2 separate regions of the Homo sapiens genome follow, and region 2 is linked to region 1. Evidence: fine-mapped QTL for protein levels in blood plasma. A gene starts in region 1. The other region holds a variant in brackets. All regions are shown on one strand. Distances are from middle to middle.

The links. PIP is the chance, under the fine-mapping model, that this variant and not a neighbour inherited with it causes the effect. Protein levels are from antibody-based Olink assays in UK Biobank. Linkage for the fine-mapping came from a reference panel and not from the study's own genotypes, which makes the PIPs less certain.
Region 2: its variant is fine-mapped to the plasma level of the BIRC2 protein (UK Biobank, PIP above 0.99). The variant lies in the coding sequence of BIRC2. If it changes the protein, the assay may bind it differently, which can mimic a change of level.

Annotation. Positions count from the first base shown.
Region 1 is chr11:102,345,047-102,350,430 of GRCh38, reverse strand. It overlaps BIRC2 (baculoviral IAP repeat containing 2), which reads right to left and starts at 3,217. Exons shown (of 9, transcript NM_001166.5): 1 at 3,055-3,217; 2 at 1-1,833. The coding sequence starts at 576. RefSeq lists an enhancer at 2,596-2,665.
Region 2 is chr11:102,375,275-102,380,658 of GRCh38, reverse strand. BIRC2 (baculoviral IAP repeat containing 2) reads right to left here. Exons shown (of 9, transcript NM_001166.5): 7 at 2,909-3,163; 8 at 2,761-2,802; 9 at 1,989-2,669. The coding sequence ends at 2,476. Among named protein-coding and RNA genes, the nearest start is that of BIRC2, 31 kb to the right of the region's middle. RefSeq lists an enhancer at 5,119-5,384. The variant T/C (reference allele first, on the strand shown) is at 2,984.

The sequences.
Region 1 (5,384 bases):
ATGGTAGGTAAGAAATCTGGCTTCTTCAGTACTCATTGCATAACTGTAGGGGTTAGTCCTCGATGAAGAGATGTCTTCAACTGCTCTAGAATTAAGAGGGTTTGGAGAAAGGCTGGAGTAAGAACCACTGAACAAGCTACTATGTTCCAAGGTGGGAGATAATGAATGTGCAAAACTGTTTCTCATTGGAGACGTATTCTTAGAGGTGGATCCCAGACTAGCTGAAACCAGATTCTGAATAAAGCTACAGCTAGGATATAGCTGTTTATGCTTTTGAATAGGACTGTCTCCTAGTTTCCAGTTATCCAGCATCAGGCCACAACAGAAGCATTTGACCTTGTCATTCACACCAGTATAATAAAAACCAGCACGAGCAAGACTCCTTTCTGAGACAGGCACCCCGGCGGGGAAAGTTGAATATGTAGACATTCTGTAGAGTTCACAGGAAAAGTCATACTTCATTTTTTGTTTGTTGCTGTTTGTCCAATCTGACAAGATCGTGCTATCTTCCATTATACTCTTAATGTTTTGATACGAGGGACCTGGGAAAAGTCTTTGGGAGGCAGTTTTGTGCATGAGTAGGTGACAGTACTGTTTGATAGCTAAAACATTCACATGAAATTTCTTCACATGAACTAAGATTTTTACCACAAAAAGAAATCAATGATAGACTCTTATGTAGAATTTACTACACTTTCTTTACTGGATTTATCTCAGTTTATATTCAGGTAGGATGAGTATCTCTCTGAATTACCAAGATACTACTTAGAACACAACTCTTTGGGGTTGTAGTAACTCTTTCAGGTAACCTAAGTGCTATTTGTTCATAATCTTGAGTAATACTAACTTAAAGCCCTGAAAGGTGGATGCACTTCTGAAAATATTAAAACTCCTTGATTTTTCACAGAGATTTATATTAACAAAATTCTAAGCAACTATAGAATACCTAAATTATGCCTTTTATTTATATTTGGTTACAAGCTATGAAGCCTGAATAACAGACCAATTACTGATTATGCCACAAGGTAAAAAATTATATGCAGGCTTCTTTCCCTATAAGCACTTTAACATGACAACCCAAAAAATCTCATTTTATTCCAATAAACAAAAGTAATTAAAACCTTCATATGGTCACACTATTTAAAAGCTAAGTTCACACAGCTTATCATCATAGTATTTACTTAAGTGGGCTAAATTACTTCAGCTGACAACTTTTGGGGGAAGTCAATACCCACAAGCTTTGTTGAACCTGTGCCTGCTATAGTGCTTGATGTCAAATGAATTTGGCTTAAAGTTCAAAAACTGTAAACTCTATCTTTGTTAAATATCATTTGTATTTGTTTCCATTTCCTGCAGCATCATGTTGACTTTCTTCCTAACTTTGTATACCACTATTATTCTTGATCAACTGAAGGTATTTTCTCCATAAACTTAGTTAGCCATAAAATTTCCACAGCACACTTTTTACACTGCATTTAAAAACTAAATAACCTGTTCATCATTTAAGGACTATTCAGCTATAATTATCAGTCATGTTGTAAACATTAATCAATTTATCACAAGATAAAACTTGTCCTTTCTAGTGTTATCAGAAACGCCTAACAAAATATTGTACTACCAAAAAAGTACTGCTTAGCATAAAGTATCAGTAATCAACTCTACTAGCCTTCTTTCTGAAAACTCTTCAATGTTTTAAAAATATAATTCATACACAAAATTACACTCCATAGAATTCAAACTATATCCCTTTATAAAGTTTCGAGATCTCCATAATGGGATTTATTACTGCAGGGGGACAAAATAGGGATAGGGAGATTCTTCAGGGTTGTAAATCTGAAAAGAAAAAACAAAAAGTATTTTAGAAAACTGTATGTGCATGCCAAATAGAACTTACATACTCTTCAATTTATTCAGTAAAGTCTAAGAATAATTCACACTTTAGATAATACATCTTAATTCCAGCAATTTGTCACAACTTTCTAAATGAAAAAGCTATTAATTAAAATAAGTAAATGCAACATACTCCCCATAGCACTAACTATACGTGTCTTTAAAACGCACAACTTCAGAGACAGATGGAAATTTTCACACAGGAAACATTTTGTCCTTGCTCTCCTCCCCTTTTCTGGCCTAAAGGTAACTCTGGCACTCTGCTGGAGGCAAAGGCACATTGGTTAAAAAGACAGACAGACACTCCACTACACCCTGTCAGCAGCAGTACAGCAGGAATTAAGACAGCAACGTTAGTTTGTAATATCAAGTCTCTCCACGACTAGGAAAACTGCAGTAAAATGCACCACGAGTTCATTAATATAAACTCTTAAACTCTGCCATTCCCTTACAATTTCAAAGCAACGACCACAGAAAGCAACTCGAAAACAAAACCTAACACAGTGGCCTGTGAAACAGTGGCTCCGGCACTACGACCACTGGCATGATTGCTTTAATTACACCCGGTCTTATATCCTATCTTTAAATGAAAGATTTTTATCTACGTGCACCGCACTGCTGCATTCTCTTTACGCAAATTGCAGCTGGGCAGGGGATAGGATGGAAGGGAAAAGAATAGAAACTATGGGATTTACCCAATAATTTCCCAGAGTTGCTTCTCACAATACACAACAGACGACTACTGGAATGACAGAGCGCAGTGGCAACTATGAAATATGAAATATCGCCGCCACCGAAATATCTTCGTTTCAATGTATTACATTAAAAGAACGCCGAGGGCTAAGTTTAAAACCTTGCAAAAACTGCGAGAAAACATCTTGGTCAAAGTCCAAGGGCCAGAAGAGTGGGCGGCGGCCAGAGGCTTGAAAACAAGTCATTTTAAAAATCGCTTTGACTGCAAGTCTCGAAGTTGGGGCTTCCGAATCCAATAAAACCTTGGCGAGAGTAGAAAGCAGAGAGCCCCCGGCGACCCTCGACCCTTGGCCGAAGGGCCTCAGGCCCCGTCCTTCCTCGTTCGCCGCCACATCAGGGAAGTGGGCCCCCGCGGGCCCTCGCGTCCCCACCCGCCCCACGCCGCCCGAGCCCGGAAGGAGCAGCACTCACCGCAGTGCGGGCGCAGCAAACACGGAAGCTGCGCGGCTGCCTAGAGGCCTCCGCAGAGCCGGGAATCAGCGGCGCCGACAAGGAGATACGGCCCGCTCGGCTCGGATCAGCCCGGGCGCTCCCGAAGCCCGCCGCCCCATCCGGGCTCACTCTGACGCACGATGACGTCAGCGCGCCCGGCCGAGGACCAGCGTTAGCCGCCGCGCGAGGGCGCCCGGGAGGCTGGGGCCGGAAAGCGGAACCGAGAGCGCTTTCCGCCGTGCGGCGATGAACCTCCGGGAAAGACGCTGGGAGGCCAGGATGCCCGGCGCAACTGGACGCTCATCGGGAGTCACGGGGTCGGCCCTCAGGGGAACGGGGACTATCCGTATCAACTCGGTGTTTGTTCGTTTTCTTCACCTTGCGGTTTGTGCCCTCTCCACATTTCCTCTCTGTGTCTACCATTCTCCTGGGGGACGTGGCAAACCGTGAGCCGCTGCGTTTGAGTTTTGGGAAACCCTGCGGAAACGCCCTGGCGCCGGTGGTTTTGCGCGTCCTACCCTGTGTCACCTCAGGGTTATGATCTGGCCCCTGGCAAGGCTCCCCAAGTGTGATGCCTCCCCCCGTCCAGATGACTGCATTTTGAGGATGGAGTCAGTCTGGTGGCATTTTTTGCTTAAGTAAACAATTGTAACCGTTTGTGTAGCATCAGCGTTCAACAGCTGCCTGTGCAAATCGAAAAAAGCGAAACTTTGGAAACTAGGAAGCATCAGATGAATAATTCTGAAGACTTGATGTCAACGGGAGTATCTTGTTTTTAAACTTTTGGTTTTCTGTTCTGGAGACAAACAGTTCATATGCACTAAAGAAAAAAGTGTCATTATTTCAGATGCTCATTGCCAGCAAAGAGAACTGTATTGCAAGTCAGGCTTCACTCCCAGTATTTTCTGAATGTTTCAATAAAATGAAATATATACGTCTGCCTGTGTATTGGTGTACATGCACATATAATTGTACATAAACCAGAGAGGAGCCCAATTTTTTTTAATGCTTAGGTAATAGAAAATTTGTAAATAAAAACCCTTGGCTTTTGCTAGTCATGGACCTTTTGTATCCCCCCGCCATACTCCCCCAATAGTGCCATAGACACAGTGTCGTGCAGTAAATGTTTGTGGTATGACAACCAACGAACGACTTTTGAAGTTGACGCTCTTTGCCCGTTGAATCCGATGCTTGCTTCTCTCTGGGGAACTCCAAGGGGCAAATATTTAAAAAACTTCCAAATAGCAAGCCACTTAATTAGGGAGCCGGGGGAATTCCAAGACCCTGAACCATTTCCCATTTCCTGTCTGTGTCATTTCTGCCTGCCAGTCAGTCACAGAACAGGAGGTCTACTGTTCCAATGTTAATAGTCAAAGAAAGTGAGTGTAACAGTTTGTAATACAGAGAAAAGAAATGCCATGGCTCCCAATGACTAAAAACTTCCAAAAATGCACCTGGGGCTTGGTAGTAGTTTAGTATTTAGTTCAAGTCACTATTTCTCGGAAGGTTTACAGAACATTCCTAACACATGTGGGAAAATATATATAGCAAGAATTGTTCATTCTGAACTCAAGATTATTTCTCTTTTTCAGTTCTTGTCCTGACCAAAGCAGTAAGATAATGAATATACTTAAGTATAGGGGAAAGCTTGCATTTCAAAAACTCAAAAGCCTTAGATATTTTTAACAAAAAATATTTGTAATATTTACATATAATAAATAGTACCTCATAACTTTTAATCTTGTATAACTTTGTAGTCTAGTGTTACAGCTAGTTAATTCAGTTACCTGTTTATTCAGTTAATTTTTTTTCATTTTGCTAGTATAAAGTTGCTGTTAATCTTAAAAAAATAAGCTATGTATGTCTGCTGCAGTTGCCCTTCTAACGTTTTTCACATTTATGTAGAAAAAAAATTTACAGTATTTAAAACAATTTTGAAGAAGAAAAGTAAGATTGGAAGGTCTTGTCCTACCAGGTAATGAGTTACAATAAAGCCATAGTAATTGAGACAGTCTTGTATTATTAAACGCCCTAAGATGGACAATTAAAGGAAGGAGATACAGAGCCCCAAGAAGAGACCCATATCTATGTATTTGGGAATTTGATATACTGGCATTATGTATTAATGAGAAAATGATTAATTACTCAATAAGTAATGCTGAATGAATGGTTATTCTAATGGAAAATAAAATTAGATCACTACCATATACTATTTAAAAATCTCTGCCGGATTTTTTTTAAAAACCCTCAAAAGTAAACAGCCATCATTATGAATCCAGGGATTTAAAGAAGTTTGGTGAGTTGTAATC
Region 2 (5,384 bases), 30 kb before region 1:
GTTTAGCAAGAGATTTAAAAAAAAAAATGTAAATGTTCTGGAGCCACTTCCACCTGGACTGTATACAATTCACACTCTACCACTTGTTATCTCTAGCAAATTACATGGTTTCACTGGGCCTCAATTTCCACATTTGTATTATAAAAAAGAGATAACATGTTTCCTACAGTTTTAAGGATTATGGAAGGCAATAAAAAACCTAACAAAGCATCTGACATTCATCTGTCTGCTCAACATAATGAGCACCTGCTAGGACACTGATTATCATCATTAAGAGGGCAAAAAAGATAAGAGACTAAAACCCTAATCTCAAATCCAGGTCCATTTGAGAAGTTTGCAAGCAGATAAAGTATAAATTACACTATGTTTAGTTATATTTTTTGCATTATTTTTACTGAATGTGAAAAACACAGACGTCTTTAAACTGACTAGCTGAATAAAGCCAAATAAGGTAACTCTTTTATAAATAGATAAAAATCATAAGTTGCTACAGTTATACTAGATGGCAGCCCATGTTAACTTTTAAAAATGTAAGTATAGCTTATTAGGACAGTTTGTTAAAAAAGCACAAGCTAAGGAGCCAGGCAGATCTGTGTTCAAATCTTACTTTGCAAAATTGCTGAAAGGATCAGAGCCGATGTGCTTTAAAGTATCTATTAACGGCAGTTTGTATTACTTGGCTAAGGCTGCCACAACAAAGTACCAATGACTGGGTGGCTTAAACAACAGAAATTTATTTTCTTACAGTTCTGGAAGCTAGAAGTCCAAGATCAAGGTGTTGGCAGGTTTGGATTCTTCTGAGGCCTCTTCCTCGGGTGTCTTCACATAGTCACTCCTCTGTGCATCTGTATCCTAATCCCCTTTTCTTAGAGAACACCAATCATGTTGATTAGCAGTCAACTATATCATCTCATTTTACCTTATTTGCCTCTTTTAACAACCCTATTTCCAAATACAGGTACATTCTGAGGTACTGGCAATTAGGACTTCAACATACAAATTTGCGGGGAACACAACTGAACCTACAGCACATCTCAATTGTTTAACGCATTTAGCACTGTATCTGGCAAATGGGATCCTTGATAGAGTAGCTATTATAAGCAAAATAAGAAAAAAGAGAATAGTTTTTAAAAAGATGTAATAGTATCCTGTGACAACAAGGGGGATTAGTTTTATGACTTAAGACATATTGGGCTGTTCTGACTAAAGGACTTCTAATTTGATTCCTTGACGGAGCTAATTATCCCTTTGGCAATCACAAGTCCAGGATGAGAGGCAGAGAAAAGTTAACGTTTTAACATTGTTCTGAGTCTACTGAATTTGAGGGGGAGGAAAGAATTCCCTCTTTATATTCCCTCCATAATGGCCGGAGAGAGTTTCTCTCATGAGGTCTTGAACCTAGGTATATGCATTTGGACTTACATACATGTATCAGCATATCAGGATGGAAACAAAGGCAAGAGAAGAGACTGGGGTACACAGAAATTCTTACTCACTCTTCCCATGTGTTCTCTAAAGGAATCCAAAAGAGTTGTGAGGTGAGAAGAAAAATGGAGAGTTTTTACTATTAGACTTCCTTATCTACCTGGCTTCAGAAGTCTGCCACAGAGTGAGATCTAAGAAAGGTCAAATATGACTGGACCCAGAAAGGAGGTACTAACCATTCATTGCCTGTATGCCTCCTCACCCCATCAACACCTATGCAACAAAGCAATTACACTACTGTCTGAAAATAATGCCTATTTATCTAATTTAAGAGTTTTCTGAAATTAATGTTGGATTCATTTTTCATCCAACATTGTATCTATAACATACAAAGCAACAAGACACTGTCATCTAAAGAAATTTCACAGATAACATTATTTTAACAACACTTAATAATTTCTCATGAATGCAATTTTTTACTTAATAGCTGGCATTTGAGTACAAGGAAGACACATGAAAATTACTTTTTAAATCAGGAAAGAAAAAATATTCTGGTAACACAATCTTTTTAAAGCACTTTATTGAGATGTTTCTCACAAACTAGGGGGAGAAATAAGAGAAAAATCCTTATTTTAAAACACAAGTGAAAAGCACCAAAGACAATTCGGCACCATAACTCTGATGAACTCCAGAGTTCCTGGTTTCCAGTTCTTTTCTACACTATAATTTAGTATTCAAAGCTTTCTGAAAGAACAACAAATCCAGTAACTCCTGAAATGATGCATAACAAGCAGTGACACTACTCCCTTAGGTACACATACATACTAATATAGTTCACCAAACATAAATCTTCCCTTGTAAATAAACAGATTAAGATTAAATATATGATACCATCTTTTCAGAAACAAGATTATTAGTACCAAAGCAGACTAGAACATGAATGTTACTAATTGAAAAACTCATAATTCCCTTTTTACTTTAGATGGCTTCAAGTGTTCAACAATATTTTAAAGACCTTTTTATGCAGGTTAAAATATAGACTATTTTTCTTTAAGAGAGAAATGTACGAACAGTACCCTTGATTATACCCCTGCAAATAGGGCATTTTCTTAGAGAAGGGGCACATTCCTGGCATACTACCAGATGACCACAAGGAATAAATACAACAGAAACTTCTTTGTCCATACACACTTTACAAGTTCGTTCTTCTTGCAACCTCCTCAATTGTTCTTCCAGTGACAGACCTAATAACAAAAAATAACTTTAGTGAAATTGTTTCCACTTCATTAAAAAAAAAGGGTAATAGTTCATGTTGGTTTTAAATCTTTGTTTTACCTGAAACATCTTCTGTTGGAATATACTTCATATTCTTATCCACTGAGGAAAGAAAACATAAAAACCATTACTCTACTAAATACAAAACTGAGCCACCGCATCTGGCCAGTCCTAAGAATTTCTAAAATAATTTTCCCAACAAACTCACCAAATAAGTTCTTATACAATGTAGAGTCAATTTCTTTTAGACAGTTTTTGAAGATGTTGGCCGCAGCATTTCCTT[T/C]AACCAAAATGGTATCAATCAGTTCTCTCGCTTGTAAAGGTATCTGTGTTTTTTGTTTAATAATATCATGTTCCTGTTTATTAATTACATTGGCCTTTAAAAGATTATCCAGGATAGGAAGCACACATGTCAATTGTTGAAAGAGAGCCATTCTGTTCTTCCGAATTAATGACAAATCATCTTCATTAAAAAAAGAAAAAGAAATCCATTAGATTTTAAACTCCTTTAACTATACTCATATAGTCACTAATAACCAACCCTACAAACAATTTAGGCACTAAATAAAGTTCAAAAAAGAACAAAGTAACTTGTTTGCATTTGTAAGTTTGTTGTTTGGAAAACTTCCAGAGGAAGTCTCTGTTTAATTTTTAAGTCTATATATTTACATGTCCTAGAACTCCGCTTTTACTTTATTTTGTTGCAAGAGATTTGTAGAAGACAGTAAAAATTTCCCCCCACCATATATAATAATACTCTTGTATTTCCATTATATCATTTTACTTTTGTAAGCACTTTCATAGTAATTTGTCTCATTTGATACAGTGATCCTGTCAATTAAACAAGGCGAGTATTACTGCCTCTCATTTTTACATAGGGAGAAAAAAGACTCAGAAAAGAATGAGTGGCCTAAGATCACAAGAAAGAATAAGCTGCAGAACCAGGCATCCTAGACCAGTGTTCTTTTCAACACCCCATACTTAAGACGTGGTATTGTAGTATTGTAGGGTTTGAGTTGCCAAGTCAAAACAGACCTAGGTTCCAGTGTTGGCTAGGCCCACTCACTAGCTATGTGTCCTCATCCTTCCCCATACACCTCAGTTTCCTCATCTGTAAAATATACATAACGGTACCTTCCTCAAAGTTGTAAGGATTGAATAATACATGTAAAGCATCTGGCACAATATGTGGTACATAGTTAACTACCATTATTATTTTATAAATGTCTATGTTTATAGCAATTAAAAAAAACTACCTAAGAATCAAGCCTGACCTTTTTTTAAAAAGCCAATGTTTTTCCTTTAATATCGCATCACATAAAACTCCACAGTTAATTTATATTTATGGAATATGGTAGTTCCTTCTTTTGGTATCTGAATCATTATAAAATTTGTCTATTTTCAGACTTTCAAAAAAATTTAAAAAGTACATCTCTACAAAGTACCAGTTTAATGAGAAATAAATTATAAAAACAGAAGCCTATCTTCTTTCCCCTTTTACATCTCTCTAGAAGTGAACTGCTCTATTAATCTCAAAACTATAAAATTCCATTCTGTGACAACTTTTTCTTCTACCTAAATAATTCCTCTCACTGCTAACCAATTTGTTCTTCACCTTTTCAAGATCTCCATGTCATTCCCAATTCTACTTGCACAAGAGCTATCTCCTGGCTTTGCTTCAAACCTCCTATTCTAATCTAGGTAGCAGTCAGGTATTTCAATGAAGTTCTCTATATTAGCACCCTTAACTCATCTTCCGTATTCCTTACTTGCCCTTTCCCCTATTAACACTGCCAAATCTGTAATTCAATACTATTTTCCAACCCATACAAAGTATGAGAAAGTCATAAATCTAAGGTGACAGTGATTTCATATAACCTTAGCTGGATTTCATTACTACTTAACAATCCTTAAATTGACTTTTCTTAGGCCCTTTCTTTCACCAAGTCCCTCCCACTTCCCAAGTCAATCTACCTAATGCTTAAAAAAAAAAAAAAATTGACGTGCTAGGAGCTGTGTTAAAGTGTTTTATTTGCAATATCTCATTTAATTCCTACAGCAACCCTATGGGAGTCATACTATTATTATCCCCATTTTACAGATGAGAAAGCCGATGTCTGGTTGAATAAATAGCCAAGCTAGTAACTGATAGAACTGGAATTTTTTTTTTTTTTTTTTTGAGATGGAGTCTGGCTCTGTCACCCAGGCTGGAGTGCAGGGGCACGATCTCGGCTCACTGCAAGCTCTGCCTCCCGGGTTCACGCCATTCTCCTGCCTCAGCCTCCCGAATAGCTGGGACTACAGGCATCCGCCACCATGCCCGGCTAATTTTTTGTATTTTTAGTCAAGACGGGGTTTCATCGTGTTAGCCAGGATGGTCTCAATTTCCTGACCTTGTGATCCGCCCGTCTTGGCCTCCCAAAGTGCTGGGATTACAGGCATGAGCCACCGCGCCCAGCCTGGAGCTAGAATTTAAACACAAATCTGTTTCAATGTAGAAGTCCAGACTTTAAATATTTTGCTACACGGTCATGCAATAAGGTACTCTTAAGTTATTCCTGTCTTTACTTACAAGCTTAAAAAGAAAGCATCTTCCAACGCAATACTCCAATACATATGCAACCTTCGCCTCTCTGCTGGCCCTTTAACCCTGTCTTTTGCACACTAGTCTCGCCAGCTAGTGT